Regions from separate parts of the Homo sapiens genome. Here region 2 is linked to region 1. The links come from fine-mapping of genetic effects on gene expression. A gene starts in region 1. The other region holds a variant in brackets. All regions are shown on one strand. Distances are between the middles of the regions.

What was found. PIP is the estimated chance that this variant, and not a neighbour inherited with it, causes the effect. A credible set is the group of variants that fine-mapping cannot tell apart.
Region 2: its variant is the best candidate, but not a certain one, in a credible set for the expression of PPP1R3B-AS1 in anterior cingulate cortex (GTEx, PIP 0.90).

What each region holds. Positions count from the first base shown.
Region 1 is chr8:9,137,393-9,146,352 of GRCh38, forward strand. It overlaps PPP1R3B-AS1 (PPP1R3B antisense RNA 1), which reads left to right and starts at 4,027. Exons shown (of 2, transcript XR_007060810.1): 1 at 4,027-4,406; 2 at 7,859-8,118. It overlaps PPP1R3B (protein phosphatase 1 regulatory subunit 3B), which reads right to left. Exons shown (of 2, transcript NM_024607.4): 2 at 1-4,276. The coding sequence starts at 4,259. The coding sequence ends at 3,402. RefSeq lists an enhancer at 3,097-3,596.
Region 2 is chr8:9,097,279-9,113,107 of GRCh38, forward strand. It overlaps a transcript of ERI1 not described here. Among named protein-coding and RNA genes, the nearest start is that of PPP1R3B-AS1, 36 kb to the right of the region's middle. The variant T/G (reference allele first, on the strand shown) is at 4,883.

The DNA.
Region 1 (8,960 bases):
TGGGAAAGATTCTGGGACTCGGGGGCCACTTGTAACCATAACCAAGAGCTGTCTGAAGGCAAATCTACAAGTCAAGGTGCAGTGAAGTCTCCAAGTAAGAAACCTGTCACCCTCTGAAGTGTGTAGGCTTATCTACTGATGATGAGCTATCAAACAAGGAGAGAATACATCAGCGCAGCTCCCGAGGCCTTCTGAGAATTTCACGGGACAGAACTGGGCCAAAAGGAAGAAGACTGTTTGCGGCAGGAGGGTAGCAGAGGAGCAAGTGGTAAACAGAAGACAGATAGAAGGCAGTATTCTTCAGACCCCCATACATCACTGAATGACAGCCCTGATGAGGAAACTCAGGCAAGTAGAGTCTTTTATTGGAGAAGAAGGGTCTTTGCGAGCAGGTGAGGACTTGCCTTCTGAACTGTGCGGCAGGGTGAGCATCCCAGGTGTGCTGGCTGGGGGCTTGCATCCAGCACCCCCAGCAAAAAAAGCCAGGGTGAGCTGGGAGAAAGACGGGTAGTGGGGAGGGTTTACGGCTGCTTTAGAAGAGATAGTTATCACTGAATTACCATATTTCAAATTTTGACATGGGAATGTCTTAAGATCATTATTAGATAAAATTAAACTGACTTTATTAAACAGAGTCACTTCAGGCCTTTTTCTTATGAACAGAGTGATCCTTAGTCGGGTAACATGTCAATGACAGTGCACTCTGTGCCTCTCCTGCATTGTGGGGAGGGCACTTCTTAAGGCAAAGTAAAATTCAGGACCTGCATGAAATCAGTTTTGCTTCCATTTGAGTTCGATTTATGCTATTAATAGTTCTGATCACCAAATTTATAACATTTAAAGTACTGTCTGTTACCCGATGTCTGGTATGTTTACATAAAACGTGGTTCTGCCCAGTAACAGCATAAGGTAAAAATGTGATTTCCCCTAAAATTATAACATCATGTCATCCTAGAGTGTTACCCACCTGGGAGAGGTACAAAAAACAAAGCATTAGATTTCAGGCTAAGAACAGCCAGTTTTAGGAGTAAGAATTACATCGAATAGCCTTAAGAGCATTTAAAAAGTCAAGGCATCTTAAACTTCAGAAATGAAAACAAAACCAAAACAAAACAACAACAAAAACAACCTAACCCAACCACAAAACTCTAGGAGCCAAGGCACTCAGTATCTGCCTGTTGGTTATGTACAAAGCCACAAATGGGAGGTCTTTTCAAATTAATCTGGAAAATCCAAGCACAAGACTCTTAGCTTGAAAAGCCTGACAACTCTGCCTCCAAATCCAGGCAACTGTGCTTCCACTCCTCTTCTTGCTTGCCTTAGGAAAACTTCACTTTAGTAAGATAAGGCAAAACAGAAAATAAAAGAGTCGTTTAACCAAACTCCAAAAACAAACAAAAATAGAAAATAAAAAACCAACTTCCTACAAGTATACTTGTAAAAATATATTTTTAAAGCACCCCTAAGTAAACACCAATCTTGCCCAAGAAAAATCACAGGTTTGGGGCCTATCTGATAATGACTGTCCCGGAAGTCTCTCTTTTTTGAGACAGTTTCACTCTGTCGCTCAGGCTGAAATGCAGTGACGTGATCTCGGCTCACTGCAACCTCCACCTCCTGGGTTCAAGTGATTCTCCTGCCTCAGCCTCCCGAGTAGCTGGATTACAGGCGCCTGCCACCACACTCAGCTAAATTTTGTATTTTTAGTACAGACGAGGTTTCACCATGTTGGCCAGGCTGGTCTTGAACGCCTGACCTCAGGTGAGCTGCCCGCCTTGGCTTCCCAAAGTGCAGGGATTACAGGCATAAGCCACCACACTCGGCCCCAGAGGTCTCTTTTACAACAGCACTAACCAACAGACTTTAGTCCAATATGGTTAAGAACAATGAATCTCTGAAATTTCAGAGTTGGCAAACGTTTAAAATAACGTATAAGAACTTGGGTGAGGTTTTTCTCCCCTATCTCTTTACATACACACCATAAATAAGAACACCCAAGTCCATGTCCCTGGGTGCTGGTAAAGTGTTCTAGATAGTGTGAATCACAGTCACGATAAAACCATTTTCTGAAGGTTTCGAGGAGATATTGGATATGCAAATCAAATGTCCTAAACACAGCAGAAAAGATGACTCTTTGGGAAAGGAGATTCAAAATTCTCTTTTTTTTTCTGTTTGAGACGGAGTCTCGCTCTGCTGCCCAGGCGGGAATGCAGTGGTGTGATCTCGGTTCACTGTAAGCTCCGCCTCCCAGGTTCCCGCCATTCTCCTGCCTCAGCCTCCCAAGTAGCTGGGACTACAGGCGCCCGCCACCACGCCTGGCTAATTTTTTTGTATTTTTAGTAGAGACAGGGTTTCACCGTGTTAGCCAGGATGGTCTCGATCTCCTGACCTCGTGATCCACCTGCCTCGGCCTCCCAAAGTGCTGGGATTACAGGCATAAGCCACCGCGCCCGGCCCCAAAATTCTTTCATAAAGAATGAGACAAACCAGCCAAGCACGTTAAAGTCATTGAGCTTTCGGGGGAAAAATCAGATTTTTCCGGTGACTCGGGGTAAATGTGGGGACTTAGAAAGCTCCCCCTAGAAGGCAAAAGTAGAAGCTGAAAGTGTCCCCACTCTTGACTGTCCTGCCTTGTCAGAACCCTGCAATCTGTGACACCGCACAGGAGCCAGTGGGTTTTGATGACTGGTGTGTTGCTCTCTGCTGGAATACATCTGTGGGGTCAAGAAGCGGGAGGAGGAAATGCCTGTCTCAACCACTAACTAATTTGCCTTTATTATCTTTTCCTGAACATCAGATCAATTGTGGAAGAACATAAAATGCAAAACATGAACTTGCAGAAAACAAGAGCCAATCCCATTTCTCTTCTGCAGCTGCACTGGAAATGTGCGTCAGCTCAGTGTGTCACAGCAGAGATACACGTGGACGGGGAAGCACAGCAGCTTGCAGGAAAGGCCTGGCTGGCAGAGAGCACCCAAAGATGAACACAATGAACAGTGAGGGTCTCACGCGAGGTGGCTGGGGCTGAGTGGCTTTTGGCGACTGATGTCCCACATCTGAGTGGAGAGCAGAGGAGAGACTCCTCCAGCTTCATCAGCACTGGCATAGGCTTGATTCCCATCCATACCCTTTCCAGCACAGACGTGCACAGACTCTCGTGGCTGCCACAGTGCGAAAGCGCGCCAGCCACCACTGCTCCTTTGAGTGAGACACTGGTTGTGTAATCTGAACCTGGCTGGATTTGCTGTTTAAGAAAGAAGTGAAGAGGATCCTTTTATTTTCCCAAACGGGGCCTCATGGAAGTTCCACGTTGCTCCTCCCTGGCCTTCCATCTCCACTGCACAGTGAGCAGAGCTAGGCTTGTCTGTGGCAGCTCCGCCACGCCCTGTCACCTGCAGTCACTAGTAGTAGGGCCCTAGCTTTTCATATCCTAAGTAACTTGGCCACTCTGGAAACAGACCATAGGAACACCGAGGGCTTCCGAACTGGTCAAAGGATATTCCCAAATCCGGTCCACTGTGGGGCTTGGTCATTCCCTGGGTAGATTTTAACTCAGCCCGGATGATCCTATAGTTCTTGCCTCTGTTGCTGTCCCAGTACGTCTGTCCATTGCACTCGTAGTACACAGCAAACTCCATTCTTTCATAAGACTGAATCTTCTCGGGCAAGCTGATGTCGAAGGAGAACGTGTCCCTGTCTGAACCGGCATAAGTGTCCTTCACGTACTGACAAGGAAAGTCTGTGTAGCTCTTCCAGGTGTCGAACGTCATCCTTATTTTCACGGTCTTCTCAAATGCGAGGTTCTGAACCTTCACAGTGCCTGCAATGGCCTTGTCCTTGAGCACACAGTTCTCAAGGCAGACGTGGTCGGCCTGAAGTCGATTTCTAAAGTCTAAGTAATCTGCAGAGGGCTGGGAAAAATCCAGAACAAAGCTCTCGCTCTCTGCTGTCGTCAAGCTCACAATGTTGTCTAGGAGCTCGGTGATGTTGAATGGCATATCTAGCGGGTCATCGAATTCCGAGAACACTTTGACCATTGTCAGGGCCAGCCCCTGGTTGTCTGCGAAGGACACCCGCTTTTTCACCTTCTTCTCCTGGACAGCCGGGGCCACCATTCCACTGGCTTCATTCTTGCTGCTCAGCTGAATACAAGGCCTCAGTGGTTTGCTGGGCTTTGGTGAGATCTTAAAGGCAAACCTCTCTTGGCGCAAGGAAGGAGCCATGCAGTTGTATCTGTACTCGATGTCCACAGCCATCATGGGGCTAGATGAACAGGCTAGAACCGTGGAAAGGGAAGAGAAGAAAGAAAACAGTGGAGCAATCAGATCAGACAGATGTGTAAAGGCATCATTCCAGCAGGGACTGGCAAACAATATTTCCTTTTATCTATGCCCACCTGGCTACAGGTCAGGATTAACTCTGGTGTGGTCCAGCACAACATGCGTTTGAGAGAAGATTATGTTGTGGGGGGACGAGATGCGGTGGGGGGTGGGGGGTGCTTCAAGGTTAAAACAAACAAAAGAGTATGAAACCCACTAGTTTTAAAACTAAATGCACAGGTTTTTTGGTCAGCATTTCTTGGGGCCTTCCGTTGGCAAATGTGCCACAGAGGATAATCAAAAGGGCATATATACTGTTTTAAAATTTCCCAAATCTATTTGACTAAAAGGGTGTCTTCCACAGATAGCTGTCCTGAGGGACACTATTTATTTACGTATTTTTAGAGATAGGGTGTTGCTCTGTGCCCAGGCTGGAGCGCAGTGGCGTGAGCACAGCTCACTGCAGCCTCGACCTCCCAGGCTCAAATGATCCTCCCACCTCAGCCTCCCAAGAAAGTGGGACCACAGGCGCAAGTCACCATGCTTGGCTAATTTTAAAAAATTTTTGTAGAGACAGGACTCGCTATGTTGCCCAGGCTGGTCTCACACTCCTGGCTCAATCCATCCTCCTGCCTTGACCTCCCAAGGTGCTAGGATTACAGGTGTGAGCCTCTCTGCCTCTCTTTATTAATTGAGAAGTAAAAATTGTATATTCTTATGGTGTACAACAGGTTTCCATATATGTATACATTGTGGAATGGCTAAATCGAGCTATTTAACATGCATTATATCACACTTTTTTTGCAGTGAGAACACTTAAAATCCACTCTCAGCAATTTTCAAATATATAACATATCATTACCAAGTATAGGCACCATATTGTACATCAGATCTCTTGAATTTATTCCTCCCGTCTACCTGAAATTTTGTATCCTTTGGCCAAAGGATACCTCTCCAGTCCCTCTACCCTCACTTTCTGGTAGCCACCCCTGTACTCTCTGTTTCTATGAGTTTGACTTTTTCAGATTCCACATATAAGTGAGATCATGCTATATTTGTCACTCTGTGCCTGACTTATTCACTTAACATCCTCCAGGTTCATCCCCGTTGGCACAAATGACAGGATTTCCTTCTTTCTTCAGGTAGAATGGTATTCCACTGTGTTTATATACCATGTTTTCTTTATTCACTCATCCAATGATGGGCACTTAGGTTGATTCCGTATCTTGGCTTAGTGAATAACGCTGCAATGAACATAAGAGTACAGATAACTCTCCGATACACTGACTTCAATTCCTTTGGATATATGTCCTGCAGTGGGATTGCCGGGTCATATAGTAGTTCTAGTTGTGGTTTTTTGAGGAGCCTCCCTACTATTTTCCATAATGGCTGTACTAATTTACATTCCCACCAGCAGGAGACAAGGGTTCCCTTTTCTCCACGTCTTTGCCAATACTTATTTTCTTTGGTCTTCTTGAAAATAGCCATCCTAACGGGTGTGACGTGACATCTCATTGTGGCTTTATATTTGCTATAATCTGATAAAAAGAAATGGATTCATCCCACAAATAGGGATTGGGTGTTTCCTATATGGCAGGCATCAAGCAAGATACTGGGATTCAATAGTGAAGATAGACACAAACCTGCTTTCATTAAGTTTATGGTAGGTTTTTAAATGTCAGGATACCATTCTTTTAAAAAGAACCAGCAGGCCTGGGCGGTGGCTCACGCCTGTAATCCCAACACTTTGGGAGGCTGGGCAGGTGGTTCATCTGAGGTCAGGAGTTTGAGACCAGCCTGACCAATATGGTGAAACCCCATCTCTACTAAAATTACAAAAATTAGCTGGGCATGGTGGCATGCACCTGTAGTCCCAGCTGCTCTGTAGGCTGAGACAGCAGAATTGCTTGAACCTGGGAGGCGGAGGTTGCAGTGTGCAGAGATCACACACTCCAGCCTGGGCCACAGAGCAAGACTCTGTCTCAAAAAAAATAAAAATAAATAAAATAAAAACAACCAGCAATTTCGTATTCTTAAGCCTTTAACATAGGTGAATATTTGTTTTTTCCACAAGTAAAAAATTGGCTCTATAAGAATAAAAAGCAAAGAGAATCATGCTGAAAGAGGATAAATCTGAGTTAACAAAAACTATATTTTCTTTAAGTAAAAACGATAAGTAAAACAAAAAAAGACTACAGACAAACTGTGAAAATATTTTACAATAAGCATAGCAGCAGAGCTAATACCTTAATATGTAAAGTGTTCTTACAAAGCAATAATAAAGTCAAATATTCCACATAGAAAAATAAGCAAAGAACATGAATAGAAAATTCATGAAAAAAAATTTTAAAGTGGCCTATAAATATGCAAAATGTTCAACCTTATTATTAATTTAAGAAATTTAGATGAAAAACAATGTCTGTTTTTTATTTATTGAATTAGGAAAAAAATTGAAAAGATAATACAAGTTTTTCTTTTTTTTTTTTTTTTGTTTGAGACTGGGTCTTACTCTGTCACCTAGGCTGGAGTGAAGTGGTATGAACATGGCTTATGGCAGCCTCCACCTCCTGGGCTCAAGCGGTCCTCCCACCTCAGCCTCCCGAGTAGCTAGGACCACAGGCATGAGCCACCATGTCCGGCTAATTTTTAAAAAATATTTTTTTGTAGAGACGAGGTCTCACTATGTTGCTCAGACCAGTCTTGAATTCCTGGACTCAAGCAATCCTCCCACCTCAGCCTCCCAAAATGCTGGGATTTATAGGTATGAGCCACTGTGCCCAGCCAATGCAAACATTTTCATTAGTTAAAATTGGTACAAACTTTCTAATTTTTTAATCATTTTTTATCCTAATATCACATAGAGACATTTATCCTAGGTAAAGAATTAAAAACACACAGAGATTAAGGTACTAAAATGTTCAATGCCACATTATAGGGGGAAAAAGATGACAAAATAACCTAGGTGACCATTAACAGGTACCTGGTTAAATTAAATGTACCACATCCATGTGATGTACTTTTATTTTTACTGTTGTTATTTTTTCCTTTTTTGAGACAGAGTTTCACTCGTGTCACCCAGGCTGGAGTGCAATGGCACAATCTCGGTTCACTGCAACCTCCACCTCCCAGGTTCAAGTGATTCTCCTGCCTTAGCCTTTCGAGTAGCTGGGATTACAGGAGTCTGCCACCACGCCCAGCTAATTTTTGTATTTTTAGTAGAGACAGGGTTTCACCATGTTGGCCAAGCTGGTCTCAAACTCCTGACCTCAGGTGATCCACCCGCCTCGGCCTCCCAAAGTGCTGGGATTGCAGGCGGGGAGCCATCATGGCCAGCCCATGTGATGTAATTTTATATCATCATTAAAGCCATTATTTTAAAAAAGATTCAAATGAAATGAAAAAAAAATATTATATATTTATATTTATGTCTACATATGTATATATATATAGAGAGAGAGAAGATAAAATTGTACATAGAAACTAGACTTGTGGGGAAAAATGCTGTTGTCACTTCAACGACATGAGTTTGAACTTTGTAGGTCCACGTATGCTCAGATTCTCTTCTGCCTCTGCCGCCCTGAGACAGCAAGACCAACCCCTTCTCCTCCTCTTCCTCCTCCTCAGCCTACTCAACGTGAAGAGGATGAGAATGAAGACCTTTATGATGACCCGCATCCACTTAATGAATAGTAAATATATTTTCTCTTTCCTATGATTTTCTTAACATTTTCTTTCCTTTAGTTTACTTTACTATAAGAATACGGTATATGTTACAAATAAAATACAAAATATGTGTTAATCGACTGTTGATGTTATTGGTAAGACTCTGGTCAACAGTAAGCTGTTAGAAGTGAAGGTTTTGGGGAGTCAAAAGTTATATGTGGATTTTTGACTGTGTGGGGGCTAGGCTCCCCTAGACTCCATGTTGTCCAAGGATCAACTGTATTATGTAAATGCAGAGAAAAAAGACTAGAGATATATATTTAAAATCAGAATACCTAGGTGACAAGATTTCAGGAATTTCTGGTATCCTGGTTTGTATTATATCTTCTAAAATAATATTGCTTCTATCATCAGAACAAAATGAACCTAAAAAAAATCCTCAAATATTTTATGATATGCCAAAAACCCATCCCATCACTACTGCCTCACTAAAGCTGAGCACTTTTTTTTTATAAGACAGGATCTTGCTGTGTTGCCCAGGCTGGAGTGCAGTGGTGCAATCATAGCTCACTGGAACCTCAAACTCCTGGGCCCAAGCAATCCTCCCGCCTCAGCCTCCAAAGTAGCTGGAACTACAGGTGTGCACCTCCATGCCCAGCTAATTTTTCAATTTTTATAGAGGCAGGGTTTCACCATGTTGCCCAGGTTGGTCTCAAACTCCTGAGCTCAAGCAATCCTCCCGCTTCAGCCTCCCAAAATCTGAGCACTTTTTATCATTCTAATTACCATGGCAAATTTATATTTTGATTTGACAGTTTCAATGGACTAAATTAAGGAAATGAGTGCCGAAACTAGGATTAAAATCTCAAGTCTGAGAATCACAGAACACAGGATCTGGATGAGTCCCCAAACCTATCTCCCCTCAACCTATCTTACCCCTCCTTATGGCACAGGTGTAGGTGTGTGATGACGTGTTGG
Region 2 (15,829 bases), 37 kb before region 1:
TAACAGTCGAGTGTTTTTGTGCTAGGCATTGCATTTGGTACTGGGGACCCAGTGGTAAACCAAACAAACAGGGCCTCTCTTCAGAAGTAATTTATCATTTAGGGCCAGGTGCGGTGGCTCACGCCTGTAATCCCAACACTTTGGGAGGCTGAGGCAGGTGGATCTCCTGAGTATCACAGGCTGAGTTCGAGACCAGCCTGGCCAACATGGTAAAAACCGGTCTCCACTAAAAATACAAAAATTAGCCAGACACGGTGGCGTGCGCCTGTAGTCCCAGCTACGCAGGAGGCTGAGGCTGGAGAATCACTTGAACCAGGGCGGCAGAAGTTGTAGTGAGCCAAGATTGTGCCACTGCACTCCAGCCTAGGTGACAGAATGACACTCTGTCAAAAAAAAAAAAAAAAAAGAGTAATTTATCATTTAGTAGGCAGTTAAGAGACTTTTTTAAAAGAAAGAAAAGAAGAAAGAAGAAAAGACATAAACAAGCACTATATACATCATAAAGAATGTGGATTTTATTCTGAAAGCAATAAAAGCCATTGCAGAAGTTTAAATTTTTGTTAATTAAAAAAAAATGCTTAACAACCCAAATGCCCGTCAATCAAATAGTGGATAAAGAAATTATGGTATATGTATATACACCATGGAATACTACTCAGTCATAAAAAGAAATGCAATAATGGCATTTGCAGCAACCTGAGTGGAATTGGAGACCATTATTCTAAGTGAAGTAACTCAGGAATGGAAAACCAAACATCGCATGTTCTCACTCCTAAGTGGGAGCTAAGCTATGAGGATGCAAAGACATGAGAATGATACAGTGGGCCGGGCACAGTGGCTCACACCTGTAATTCCAGCACTTTGGGAGGCTGGGGTGGGCTGATCACTTGAGGTCAGGAGTATGAGACCAGCCTGGCAAAAATGGTGAAACCCTGTCTCTACTAAAAATACAAATAATTGGCCGAGCGCAGTGGCTCACGCCTGTAATCCCAGCACTTTGGGAGGCTGAGGCGGGTGGATCACCTGAGGTCAGGAGTTTGAGACCAGCCTGGCCAACATGGTGAAACCCCATCTCTACTAAAAATACAAAAAATTAGTTGGGTGTGGTAGCTTGAGCTGTAATCTCAGCTACTTGGGAGGCCGAAGCAAGAATCGCTTGAACCCGGGACGCAGAGGTTGCAGTGAGCCGAAATGGCGCCTTTGCACTCCAGCCTGGGTGACAGAATAAGTGAGACTCCATCTCAACAACAATAACAAAAAGAAGGATACAGTGGGCTTTGGGGACTCCAGGCAATGGTTGGGAGGGAGGTGAGGGATAAAAAGACTACACCTTGGGTACAGTGTACACTGCTTGGGCAATGGGTGCACCAAAATCACAGAAGTCACCACAAAAGACCTTATTCATGTAACCAAATACCACCTGTTCCCCAAAAACCTATTGAAATAAAAAAAAAATTTTTAATAAAGAAATAGAAAAAAATGTTAAACAGCCTTATTGAGGTATAATTGACTTACAGCAAATTGCACATATTTCAAATATACAATTTGGTAAGTTTTTTGTTTGTTTGTTTGTTTCAGACAGGCTCTCACTGTCACTCAGACTGGAGTGCAGTGGTGCAAGCTCGGCTCACTGCAACCTCTGCCTCCCAAGCTCAAATGATTCTCCTGCCTCAGCTTCCCGAGTAGCTGGGATTATAGGCGCCCCCCCACCACATCCGGCTAATTTTTGTATTTTTAGTAGAGACAGGGTTTCACCATTTTGGCCAGGCTGGTCTCGAACTCCTGACCTCAAATGATCCACCTGCCTCAGCCTCTCAAAGTGCTGGGATTACAGGCATGAGCCACCACACCCGGCCACAATTTGGTAAGTTTTAACATCTGTATATACCCATAAAACCATCACCAGGATATGATGAGCATATCCATCCAACCAACAAAGAGTTCTTGTGCTCTCTTCTTCCTTCTCCCCAAGTAAGATTTGAACTCCAATGCTACTGATTAGTTCAACTTTTTTCAGAATTTTGTATAAATCATCATACAGGGCCAGGCACAGTGGCTCATGCCTGTAATCCCAGCACTTAGGGAGCCAGGAGGTTTGCTTGAGCCCAGGAGTTCAAGACCAGCCTGGACAATATAGTGAGACTTTGTTTCTACAAAAAATAAAAAATTAGCCAGGTGTGGTGGTGCATGCCTGTGATCCCAACTACTCAGGAGACTGAGTTGGAAGAATCAGTTGAGCCTGGGAGGTCAAGGCAGCAGTGAGCTGTGACGGTATCATTGCAATCCAGCCTGGGCAATAGAGCGGGACACTCTCTCTCTCAAAAAAAAAAAAAAAAAGAAAGAAACAGAAACCCCAACCAAATAAATAAATAAGCATACACTATATACTCTTTTTCACGTGGCTTTTGTTCTCTTTACCACTGTAGAGCATTCCATTGTATGATACAGCAATTTATTTATCCTTTTACCTATCAATGGACCTTTGGGGTTGTTTCTACTTTTTGGTTATTACGAATAATGCCGCAGTCTTTGCTAACGGTATTGGTATTATGGACACATGCTTTCATTTCTTTTGGGCAGACAACTGTGAGTGGAATTGCTGAGTCATGTGGCAAACTACCAGTTCTGTTGAACCTCAGGGCCATCATTCTGTTCATGTCAGCTCGTTGTAGAACCACATCGATGAAGACCAAGATGGTAAAGATGAAAAATTGTAGCTAACATTTACTGCACATTTACTACAAGCCAAGCATTGCACTATGAAGTTTAAGTGCATTATTCATTAACCCCTTCAATAAAATTTGTAATTTTCATTTCAGAAGCAAATATTCGTGTTGTACAAATTTCTGATTGCCCTAAATGTAGAGAGACTGATGGGGAAAGTATGATGGGTTTGATTTTTATATCAAATCATCAGGCATGGAGAAATATCTTTTAGAAGTGTTAAAATAAATGTTCCTACTGTATATTTAAAATACAAAAAATGATAATAATAATAATAACAATTCCTCTGAAATAGTTACCGTGAATACCCTCATTTAAAATGAGGAAGCTAAGCCTTTTCAAAGTTAAGTAACTTGCCTAAGGTCTCTTAACAACTAGCGAAAAGGATAGAACTCAAACCTAGGTCTTTCTGACCCTGCAGTTTGTGTTTCTATCCACGGTGTAAGTGAATGAGTCAATGTATGCTAAAGTCAAGACTCTTATCTTCTGTTTTGCTTTCTTTCAGCATGGACAGAAGCACATTAACCTAGTCACAGGTGCCAGTGAGGGGCATTCTGATTAGCTGAGATGTTGGTTTCATTTTGCTTTACTGTTAGTCTAAGAATCTAAGGAAAATATAATGTGCAAGATACATTTGGCAATCATTTTATAGATTTTGTTAAAACTCCATAGGAATCCTTTATAAAGTTGTCTAATCTAAAATATATGACTATATTTAAGATGCATTTGTTTGCTTGGTTTAGATGGTAGTTTTTTTAAAGGGCCTCATCCATCAAAACACAATAAATGGGAATTGACTGTAGAATCCTGAGAATTTGTAATATTTGGAGGCATAATGACATAGCAGAAGAATATGAGTTTGCAGGTAAAAGAGACTTGGATTGAATATTCGGTCTGATGTTTCACAGTGGAAAAGCTATTGAAACCTCATTTTCTCGTTGGTAGAATGAAGATAGTAATGCCTATTTAAAGGGTGGTTGTAAGGATTAAAGAAGATGACAGACCCGTTACCCGGTGACACATTAGATTCTTGGTGAGGGTCAGGTCCTAGTTCATTTCTAGTCCCCCCCGCAACCTTTTTTTTTTTTTTTTTTTAAAGGGATCACACCTTTTTATCCTGGCTTAAAATCTAAATCCCTTCCTGCTAGGAGTTGGTGATCCTTCCCAAACTGTATGCAAAATTTAGTATGTTTGTACATGTTCATTTTGCGAGAAAATATCCCTGTGTATTAGTTCCTTTTCAAACTGTTATAAAGAACTACCTGAGACTGGGTAGTTTATGAAGAAAAGAGGTTTAATTGACTCACGGTTCCGCATGGCTGGGGTAGCCTCAGGAAACTTACATTTTTGGCAAAAGGAGAAGGGGAAGTGAGGCAGACGGCAAGATGCAGGGGAAGTGCCACACTTTTAAACCATCAGATCTCGTGAGAACTCACTTACTATCAGGAGAACAGCCTAGGGGAAACCACCCCCTTGATCCAATCACCTCCCACCAGGCCCCTCCCCATGGGGATTACAATTCGAGATGAGATTTGGGTGGGGACACAGAGCAAAATCATATCACCCTGGCTTCCATCAGATTTCAAAGAAATCCATGATTCAAAGGCAATTTAGAACCACTGGGAGATTGTTTTTCATTCATTCAACAGTATTTACTGAATATCCACTATGGGTCAAGCGTTTTGCTCAGATAAACCATGTCCCTGACTTTCAGGAAGGTACAGCCTAGACTGGTGAATAAAAGTATGACCTGTTTTGTGAATCTGTGTGTTATCACGCTATTATTAGGTTGGTGCAAAAGTAATTGCGGCTTTTGCCATTGAAAGTAATTACTTTTGCACCAACTTCATGCTTACTTGTATGGAGATGACACGTCAGAGAGAAAGGAGAGTACATGAAACAAAAAGCAGAAGAATCCAGACAGTTGAGTGGACATGAAAAAGAGGCCCTGTAAGCAAGGAACAGGCATCAAGAAAATAAACCTTCCTGACTTTGACTGACAGCCAGCTGCTATATTAAGGTGTAGGATTGTGTAGGTTCTGCCCCACGGAAGTGCCGGCCAAGGGTTGAGTGGAGAGGGTTGGGGTGGGGAGGTGACGAGATGCAGCTTGAGCTCCCTTCACCAAGCTGGGGGCCCTGAAGACTCTGCCTACCTGGA[T/G]AGAGTAACTTTTTCTAATATGCTTCAAGGTGCTATAAGAGGCTGCCAGCCCAGTGTATTGCTGCTACACAGAGAGTCAGATTTTCCTTTAGGAGCTGAGCTGTTAAACTTGAAAGTAGATCAACTCTAGTTCTGAAAAAGAAAAAAAAAAAAGTGGGTTCTTTGGCTCTTTGCTCAGTTGATCCCTTAGAGGACATGATCAAGATAACTAACAGTTGGGTCACTATGTCAACAGTGTTTGGAGAACAAAGGAGGTGTCATTCAGCCTCACACCTTTCCAGGCAGCTAGTAAGGTGAGTTGGAAAAATCCTAATGCAGGAGAGGAATTTGTTTTTTTTGCATCTCGGTCCTCTCATTTTATAGATGAAGAAACTGGGACCCAGGATGATTATTTCCCAGCCTTTTCTTAAGCATGCAGCTGGAGAGTGGATGGTAAAGGCAGGAGGCCTTGGAGGATTTGTTGTACTCACTATGAGCACTTGACAATGGGAAGGGGCCCCTCTGCAGTGGCACTGGCTCTCCTGGCCCTGTTCACAGTGTCTAGCTCCACCCACCTGGCATATCTTGGGGCCAGAGCCTGTGCATATTTACTCTTTCGAGTCTTGCACTTTGCTCTTTTATTTTTACTGGCCCTGCACTTGTGTTTGCTCTTGGTGCTCTCTTCATACATATTGCAGGAGGCCCCCTGTTTAACTTGAGCTTGGGACTAAATATAACCACTGCTATCACCAGAGGCATCCATACATGTCAGCCCTTTTTCAGTGTTTGTCTGCTCCACCCCAGGTCGCAGGCACGGGGCAGGCCCCCGCGCTCCTTTCATAGGAATTCGGTTTTAAATGGAAACTATCACCAAAAGCAGGGGTGACTGGGGCCGGGAAGAAATCAATTCTTATCACAAGCTGCACTCATGCTTTGTCCCTGGTGTGCAAAAGCCCAGTCCCCAAATCTCCAAACCTCTCTTCTCCGTTTAACAGCATGGTAGATGCCCCTCTCGCTGACTCCATTTCCATCCTGTGAGCCCTTTGAAAGGAACTGCAAAGTGTCTGTAGCTTTGACATGTGCTTTTGTCTTCTGGGGCCTTCCAAAGCCTTTAGGTCATGCCACAGACCTGCAAACCATGGTTCTTGGACATTGTTCCCACACTGCACATTGCACCAGGAGAAGCTTCCACCTCACCTCCTCCAGGAAGCTCTCTCCCACACTCCTATCAACACTGCCCTTGCCTGTCTATAGTAATCGTGGTGATTAAAAGTTGCCTGCGTGGTTCATAAATTATTGTGTGGTTTTTCATCTTGTCAAAATGAGAGCAAAAGCCCTTCATTACTTGAATTAGTGTCTTCCACTCACCAATCCCTGATCCCTTTTCTCAGTGCTGAGAAAACAGGTGCTTGCCAATATCTCACTCTCTTGAGAACACTGAAGAAGATTCAAGCTCGCGTTTCCTACTTCTCTGAATACGGTAGGATCTGCTCTGACCTTCACTGCAGGCTGGGGAATGCCAGGCCAGAAGAGGGGCTTGGAGGGGCAGCTGGAGCTCCTAGAGAGAAAAGAGGGCACCCGCCCAGCCAGCTGAATCAACCCGGGATAATGAAACAGCAGAACTCGAAACCACATTGTTCTTGCAGCTTCCACTGGGTCTGAAATCAGATCCTTTACAATTTCTTCAAGGTCTACAAGTTCAGAAACTCACTCCTTTGAAAGAATACTGCCTGCAGTGACATCATTTTCTGAATCAATCCCTTTTTCTCTCCATCCCTTCTAGCAATTGTGAGCACCTGCTGCGTACAAAGCTCGGGGTTAACAAGAAGTCTAAGATGTACTCCTTGTACTTCTAGAGCGTGCTATCTAGGACAAAAGACTTATTTAAAGTTATGTTCAAAGGAAGAAGAAAGGACCCTTGGATAAGTCGACTGGGCTGCTCTTGGGGGCTGTCAGCAGCAGGGGTTATTTCGGGCACAAATTCAGGGAGAGTGGGTGATGATAGAGTAAGGAGATGTACAGGGGAAAGAGGAAGGGTTTATTTATGTGTTCATTTGTGAACTTGTTTCAACCCCGGGGAAAGAAGCAAGTGGTGAAGGTGGAGATTGCAAATACCAGAAAAGGCAGAAAGGAAGAGTACCCGAGACTCCATTGGAGAAAGAGTCAATGCAGTGTGGCAGGAACATGGGGCCACACCTCGGACGCTTCTCCATGAGGACAGGTCGTGATTGTTCCATCAGCCTGTAGATGCACAGCTAGCAGTTTTCTATATGGCTGCCCAGCTGCTCAGGCTGTTCTCCAAAAGGTCTTCTTAGGTCACGTGTTGGCTGTAGGTGAGGACTGGGAATACGTCTTGTTCTTTGCCCTGGATCCTGTGTGTACAAGGTCACCCTCATGCCATCGGGACTTTGAGTGAGGACACAGTGTCCGACGCCATTCATGGAAAGAACTATTCCGGTCAGGGTACATCTGAAACTGGCTACAGTTTGCTGGTAGGGGTGGCGTGGGGTAGAGGCATCAGAATTTGAGAGTCTCTCTGGCTTCAACATCTCTACTGCAGACAATTAACCTCAAGAGGCCCCAGGAGGGGATCTTCCTGGTGCCATTAAGAACACAGAGCATGAGGGGCCTCCCGTCTTCAAGGAGGTGGAGCTGGCTGTGAGCTCAAGGTGGGGCCTTCTGATTTTCAGTGATTTGTTGTTAGAACCGGAATTTCAGGGTTTTTGCAGCCTGGGGTCTATCCAGGCAGGTGTTAGAAAACTGGAATGACTAGATCATTAAGTGGTGTTGAGTGTGGCCATGCCAGAGTATGAAAGCTTTAGCAGGAACACAGAGCAGGAGCTTATCTCCGCTGCCTCAGTCGGACACATGATATTGCATTAGACATAAGCTCAAAGCTCACATCTCCCTTGGAAATACACAGTAACATCTAAAAACAATGAATTGAGATTAATAAAATATTCTTGGCTTGTGTTTTAAATCAAATTGGAAGTCCAGTTCATTTTGATCACTAATAGATGCTTTTTGCTGTTCCACAATCCATGCAAAATAAGATAATATGTTGTGTGTATAGCCCAGGACCTGGTGGACACTCAGAAATGCTGGTTATTTTCCTTAGTCTCGTCCCACCTGTTCCCCATAGAAGAAAGTCTGCACCCCATACATTTGAAACCCTGCACAATTTTTTCCCTTTCTTGTGTTCAATCATATGTAAGCACTAATTATGCGCCAGGCCAGGGAACACAATAGACAAAGTCCTTGCCCTCATAGAAGTTATTTATTTACTTATTTCTTAGAGACAGGGTATTGCTCTGTTGCCCAGGCTGGAGTGCAGCAGTACAATCATTGTTTACTCCAGCCTCCAACTCCTGGGCTCAGGCAATCCTCCCACCTCTGCCTCCCAAGTAACTGGGGTTACAGGCATTCACCAACATGTCCAACTCCTCATGGACATTATAATAGGAGAGAAAGTCAAGAAACAAATAAAGCACAGTACTGGCATGAACCAGTACCATGCCAGGTAATGAGAAGTTCTAAGAAAAAAGTGCAGCAGGGTCAGAGGATTAAGCATCCGCCTTAACATCTTTACTTTACACTTAGTCACCAAAGGAGCCCTCTGCTAGAGCCAGGCTCACATCCAGCCTCACATAGTACAGAGTCTCTTGAAGGTCAAAGTGTATGCATTTCAACTATTTCTTTCCATAAAAGCCCTCCAAGTCCCCTAACTCAGGGATCCCCCAGCCCCAGGCCATGGATTGGTACTGGTTCATGGCCTATTAGGAACTGGGCCACAGGGCAGGAGGTGAGCAGCAGTCAGAAGCTTCATCTGTATTGACACCCGCTTCTCATCACTCGCATTACTGCCCGAGCTCTGCCTCCTGTCAGATCAGCAGCAGCATTCCATTCTCATAGGAGCTTGAGCCTTATTGTGAACTGTACATGTGAGGGATGTAGGCTACACGCTTCTTATAAGAATCTAATCTCTGATGATCTGAGGTGGAGCAGTTTCATCCCCAAACCATCCCCTGCCCCTAAGTGTGTGGAAAAGTGAAACAAATCCCTGAGACCACTGCCCCAACCCTTGTTTTGCACATTTATTGTCATGTTGTTTTTGATTAAGATTCCAATGCTTCTTGTATCTGATTCTTTCCACTTGGGTTCAGTTTTCTTCTTTAGAAAATATACTCTTTTTCATTGAGGGCCTGTGAATAATATATTATCTTAGTCTTAATTTGTATATATATATAAAGAGAGAGATGGAGTCTTGCTCTGTTGCCCAGGCTGGAGTGCAGTGGCACAATCTCAGCTCACTGCAACCTCCGCCTCCTGGGTTCAAGTGATTCTCCTGCCTCAGCCTCCTGAGTAGCTGGGATTACAGGCACCCACCACCATGCCCAGCTAATTTTTGTATTTTTAGTAGAGATGGGGTTTCACCATCTTGGCCAGGCTGGTCTCGAACTCCTGGCCTCAAGTGATCAACCCGCCTTGCCTCCCAAAATGCTGGGATTACAGGTGTGAGCCACCACACCCGGCCTTAATCTGAATATTTTTTTGTTTCATCTCTATATTTATTCAATAGTTTAGCCCTCTATAGTTTCTAGATTAAAATTACTTTCCACGAGCAGCTGGAAATATTATTCCACCATCTTCTGGTGTCCATCGCTGTCGCTGAGAAGCCTTTTGTCAGGCGAATTGTTATGCTCTGTGTAATCTGTCTTTTTCTCTCATTGCTTCCTCCTCTCCTCCCTTCTGTTTTTTTTTTTTTCTCCTCTCTCTCTCTCCCTTTTCCCTTGTATATTTTTAAGGTTTTGTAAATCGTGTGTGTGTGTGTGTGTGTGTGTGTGTGTGTGTGTTCAGTAGCTTCAGTACAAGGCTTCTTGCTATAGATTTGGTTTCCTCTGTCCTGCCTGGGACTAACATCTTCAAGTATGAATTCTTATTCATTCTCTCAAAACTCAAATCCGGTGAAATGTCGACTCTTCATCTCCATTACTCTTAACATGCTGTAATATTTTCTATCTCTTTATCTCTCTGGTTGCAGAGGGTAATCTGTGCATATATTTTACAATCGCAGATGACAATGATCTATTTTACAATTCCCATATTCGCTATTCAGTTTTGCTGATCTGCAGTTACGCTGTGCCCTGCATTTTAATCTCAATGATGAGACTTATTCATTAAAATTCTTTTTTTAAATCTTTTTTTCTACTTTCATAGTGCCTTGTTCTCTTCTAGGGGTTTTGTCTTCTGTAGATATGTATTTAATCATTTCAAACATTTTTCTTTCATATTGTCTTTCTGATTGCCATTCTGTTCTATCAAGTCTAATTCTCCTGTTTATTTTGTCTGCTCATTCTTGGTGAATGAATGGTGAATTGTTGTCTTATGTATTTTGTAATTTTCAATTTGTGCTCTTATATACATTGTGTGTGTGTAAACATTTCTCATGGCATGGGTTGTGAGAATATCCTTCTAATGTTATTATCTCTATTTCTGCCAGGGACTCTATGGGTATCACTTAACTAAGACTTGCTTTTTTTTTTTTTTTTTTTTGTTTTTTTGAGACAGGGTTTTGCTCTGTCACCCAGAATGGAGTGCAGTGGCGCAATCTCGGCTCACTGCAACCTCCGCCTACCGGGTTCAAGCAATTCTCCTGCCTCAGCTTCCCAAGTAGCTGGGATTACAGGAGCCCGCCGCCATGCCTGGCCAATTTTTATATTTTTAGTAGAATCAGGGTTTCACGATGTTGGCCAGGCTGGTCTCGAACTCCTGATCTCAAGTGATCAGCCCGCCTTGGCCTCTCAAAAAGTGCTGGGATTACAGGTGTGAGCCACCATGCCCAGTCCTAAGACCTGTTTTTTTTTTTTTCTTATGTTTGTTCCTGAACTTACGGGTTCCTAGGCCGAATAAATAAATTTGAATCCTTCATCCATGCAAGGTATAGGCTTAGAGTTCCAATTTTTCAAGAGAGACTTTATCTCTCCACCCAGAAACAGAAAAACTTTCTTGTAATACCTTGGTACTGACGGGTAGATTTTTCTAGTTGATCTTATAACCAAGGAGGCAGCTCTAGCAGGGTTCCAGCTTAATGCAGGAATTTCAGTTACCAGCTCCATGGTTTTATCAGGCTCAAAGCCTTGCTGAGGTTAACATGTAGTCTCAATGTTGGCTTTAAGACGCAATGCTACATAGATCCCTAGTGGGGGCCCTGAACCAGCAGCCACAGAAGCAGCATGTTGTGGGCTGTCAGAAATAGACCCTTAGTCCCCACTGCAGAATCAGAATTTTTATCTTAGCAAGACTTATAGATGACTCCTGTGTACATTACAGTTTGAGAAGCACCACCCGGGTCACATGTTTTTTAATGCTCATTCTTCCAACCTCTCCCCTAGAGAAGTTATAATGTCTCTCATGTTTTTTCTGGGCTCTTTGTTTTAAACTTCTGTCTGCATTTTTGGAAACAAGAGATGTAATTTTCTTTCTTGAGAGCTCATCTGTGCATTGAAAAACATTTTTGTTGAAACCTTCTTAGTTGGCCATATTGCCAGGCCTAGAAATCCAATCCTACTCATTCTTCAAAGTTAAACTTTAAGCTTTTAGCAGTTTCCTATGCTAGCCCCTACCTTTGTGCTTTGTAATATAGACACTCAACAAACTATTTGTAGCTTTTGCATTCAAATGATGGATTAGAAAAATGTTCTTTATAGTGAGGTGGTATCATTTTTGCTTAGTTCTGCCCCTTCTATGGTATTCTCTTTTTTAACATAATACCCTCTGTGTCCCACTATATACTTTTTACAAAGCTGGCTCTGGCTCAAGCCAAGGCCTCCTCTCTGGCACCATGGAATTTCTGTAGTGAGATAGGAAAAATCTATTGTGCTCTCAGAGTCACAGACACTGAACAGCACAGCAGGGGCCAGGTTATCAGTGGCCTCTTCTTCCAGAGTTCCTGTAGGACAGTTGGTTATCTCAGCCTGTGCCCAGTCAGCCTACACGTGGGGGTCTGGGTAGTAAAAGCTGCAGAGAAAGCAGCTCTGTCCAGATTCATTTGATTAACTAGACAGGCACATCAACTATACACCCGTTCATTGCATTGCAGTATCCTGAAACTCAGGGGCACTTGAAGGGGAAGAGGAAGTAGCTCCTGCCTCTGGGGTGCTTGTAATCATATGGTAGTGAGACACCCATATCCAAAAGAATGAGAAGAAAAATCCCAAGATGTTAGAGATGCAAGTGCCTCATAGGGAGGTAGAAACTGTGTACACAATGCTGAGAGAACATCAAGTAAAGAGAAGCAACTCCATTGGTTGGGACAGAGCAACATCATCCCTTGTTTCCTTAAATTGCCAGTAAATATTTATCCTCTGCTTGCTTCTGCTTGGGGCCAAATCATTCTCCTTTGTTTTAGAGAGAAGGAAGGAGCCCCTCTGTTCTCCCCTTCCTGGGAAATTCATCGCACCAACAGCGGAGATCTTGGCTTTTTACACTATTTTGGGGGCTCTGCTTGGCATAAAATAATACATTCCCTGCCTGGGGCTAGGACAGATTGCTGCTTTTCTCCCACCTCCTGTAGGGTACATCTGGCCAACCATCCCGATCATTGTTTGCAAAGCTTCTATTCAAACATGTATATTGTTTTATGAATGGCAAAAGAGGAAGCCAACAATAACCTTAGGTCTTCATCTGCTTCTTTCATCTGAAGGGCGGGATGATTCTGTGAAGTTCCCCTCCAGCCAGTGTCCCATGCTCTCTGTTTCCTGGGAAGCCAAGATCATCAAGATCATAGTCTTCTTTTGCTCACAGCACACCCACTCCTGGAGTCCCAAACCCCATTCCTTTCTAAATCCTACTATTCTTAAATACTCTCTTTCCCTGGTGACTTTGTATCTGAATGGATTATTTGAAACTTCAATGGTGCCTTATAGTGTTAGGAATTGTTTTTATGTCTTTCTGACTTACCTCCCCAAATATATTTTAAGCTATTTGAAGGCAGAGGATTCATAGCATGTGGCACAACGGCAGGCAAGGGCAAGTTCTCAAAGATCTCAAGAAAGTCTGTTGAGCCCAAATTCATAACACTGTTAGTTATCATACATAAGGTCACTCACCTTCCATATGATGCCCAGGTTGTTGTAGAAGTCATAGTAAAGAACGTCTAAGGACATAGGAATGTCTTGTTCATAAAGGTCAGAGGAATAAGCCAGACTTTCTACTGTTGGGGGAGGTGAAATGCCACACAAGTGCTTACCTGAACCCAGTACCTCCATTCTCCTGCCACCAACAGTTTACTTCCTATCACCTTCTCTCCCATGTAGAATCATCAAATGTCCCATGCAACTTTCTGATGTTACGTACAGACATACCTTGGAGATATTGTAGGTTCAGTTCCAGACCACTACAATAAAGCAAGTATAGGCTGGGCACGGTGGCTCACACCTGTAATGCCAGCACTCTGGGAGGCTGAGGTGGGTAGATCATTTGAGGTCAGGAGTTCGACACCAGCGTGGTCTGAATGGTGAAACCCTGTCTCTACTAAAAATACAAAAATCAGCCAGGCATGGTGTTGGGCGCCTGTAATCCCAGCTACTTGGGAGGCTAAGGCAGGAGAATCGCTTGAACCTGGGAAGCAGAGGTTGCAATGAGCCAAGATGACACCACCGCATTCCAGTCTGAGTGACACTCCATCTAATAATAAAAAATAAAAATAAATAAATAAATAAAGCAAGTATTGCAATAAAGCAAATCACCTGAATATTTTGGTTTCCCAGTGCACTTAAAAGTTATCTTTATACTATACTAAAGTGTATTAAGTGTCCAATAGCACTATGTCTAAAAAAAGATGTACCTATCATCTTAATTTAAAAATACTTCAGGCCAGGTGCGATGGCTCATGCCTGTAATCCCAGAACTTTGGGAGGCCAAGGCAGAGGGGTCACTTGAGGTCAGGAGTTCGAGACCAGCCTGGCCAACATGGTGAAACCCCATCTGTACTAAAAATATAAAAATTAGTCGGGTGTGGTGGTGTGTGCCTGTAATCCCAGCTACTCAGGAGCCTGAGGTGAGAGAATCACTTGAACCTGGGAGGCAGAGGTTGCAGTGAGCTGAGATTACGCCACTGCACTCTAGCCTGGGTGACAGAGTGAGACTCCATCTCAAAAAATAAATAAATAAAAATAAAAATACTTTATTGCTAAAAAATTGCTAACAATTATCCAAGCCTTTAGCAAGTCATAATGTTTTTGCTGGTGAAGAGTCTTGCCTCAATATTGATGGCTGCTAACTTAGCAGGATGGTGGTTGCTGAAGGTTAGGGTGGCTGTGGCAATTTATGAAAATAAGACAATAGTGAAATTTGCTGCGTTCATTGACACTTGCTTTCACAAAAGATTTCTCTGTAGCTTGTGATGCTGTTTAATAGCATTTTACCCATGGTAGAACCTCTTTCAAAATTAGAGTCAGTCCTCTCAAATCCTGCCGCTGCTGTGTCAACTAGGCTTAGGTAATATTCTAAATCCTTTGTTGTTGTTTCAGGAATGTTCACAGCATCTTCAACAGGAGTAGATTCCATCTCAAGAAACCACTTTCGTTGCTCATCCGTAAGAAGCAACGCCTCATTTGTTGAAGTTTTATGATGAGATTGCAGCAATTCAGTCATATCTTCAGGTTCCACTTCTAATTCGAATTCTCTTGCTATTCCCACCACCTCTGCATTGACTTCCTCCACTAAAGTCCTGACCCTCTCAAAGTCATCCATGATGGCTGGAATCAACTTCTTCCAAATCCCGGTTAATGTGGATATTTTAGATGCATGCCTGTAGGCCCAGCTACTTGGGGAACAGAGATGGGATTATTTGAGGCCAGGATTTCGAGGCTACAGCGAGCTATGATTGTGCCACTTCACTGCAGCCTGGTGACAGAGTGATACCCTGTCTCCAAAAATATTTATAAAAAAGAAAAAACTTTAAAATGTTGATATTTTGACCTCCTCCCGTGACATGCAAGACCACATAATGGCATCTAGTATGGCAAATCTCTTCCAGAAGGTTCTTAATTTACTTAGCCCAGCTCCATCACAGGAATCGGTATGTATGGCAGCTACAGCCTCACAAAATGTATCTCTTAAATAAGACTTGAAATTTGAAATTACTCCTTGATTCATGGGCTGCAGCATGGACACTGTGTTGGCAGGCATGAAACGGCATTAATCTCCTGTACATCTCCATCACTGTTCCTGGGTCACTAGGTGCACTGTCAATGAGAAGTCCGATTTTGAAAGAAAACTTTTTTTCTGGAGCAATAGTTCTCAATAATGGACTTGAAATATTCAGTAAACCATGCTGTAAACAGATGTGCTATCATCTGGGCTTCTTTGTTCTCTTTATAGAGCACAGGCAGAGTAGCTTTAGCATCGTTCTTAAGGACCCTAGGATTTTAAGAATTGTCAATGAGCATTGGCTTCAACTAAAATTTACCAGCTGGATTAGCCCCTAATGAGAGAATCAGCCTCTCCTATGAAGCCAGGCACTGATGTCTCTTCTCTAGCTATGGAAGTTCTAGATGGCATCTTCTTCCAATGAAAAGCTATTTCTTCTACATCAAAAACCTGTTGTTTACTGTAGCAACCTTCATCAATTATGTTAGCTAGATCTTCTGGATAACTCTCTGTAACTTCTATATCAATACTTGCTGCTTCATCTTACCCTTCTGTATAATGGAGATGGCTTATTTTCTTAAACCTCATGAACTACCCCCTGGTAGCTTCCAACTTTTCTTCTGTAGCTCCCTCACCTTTCTCAGCCTTCACAGAATTGAGGAGAGTTAGGGCCTTGCTGTGAGTTAGGTTTTGGCTTAAGAGAATGTTGTAGTTGGTCTCATCTTCTAAGTAGACCACTAAAAATTTCTCTATATCAGCAATAAGGCTCTTTCACTTTCTTATCATTCATGTGTTCACTGGCGTAGCACTTTTAAT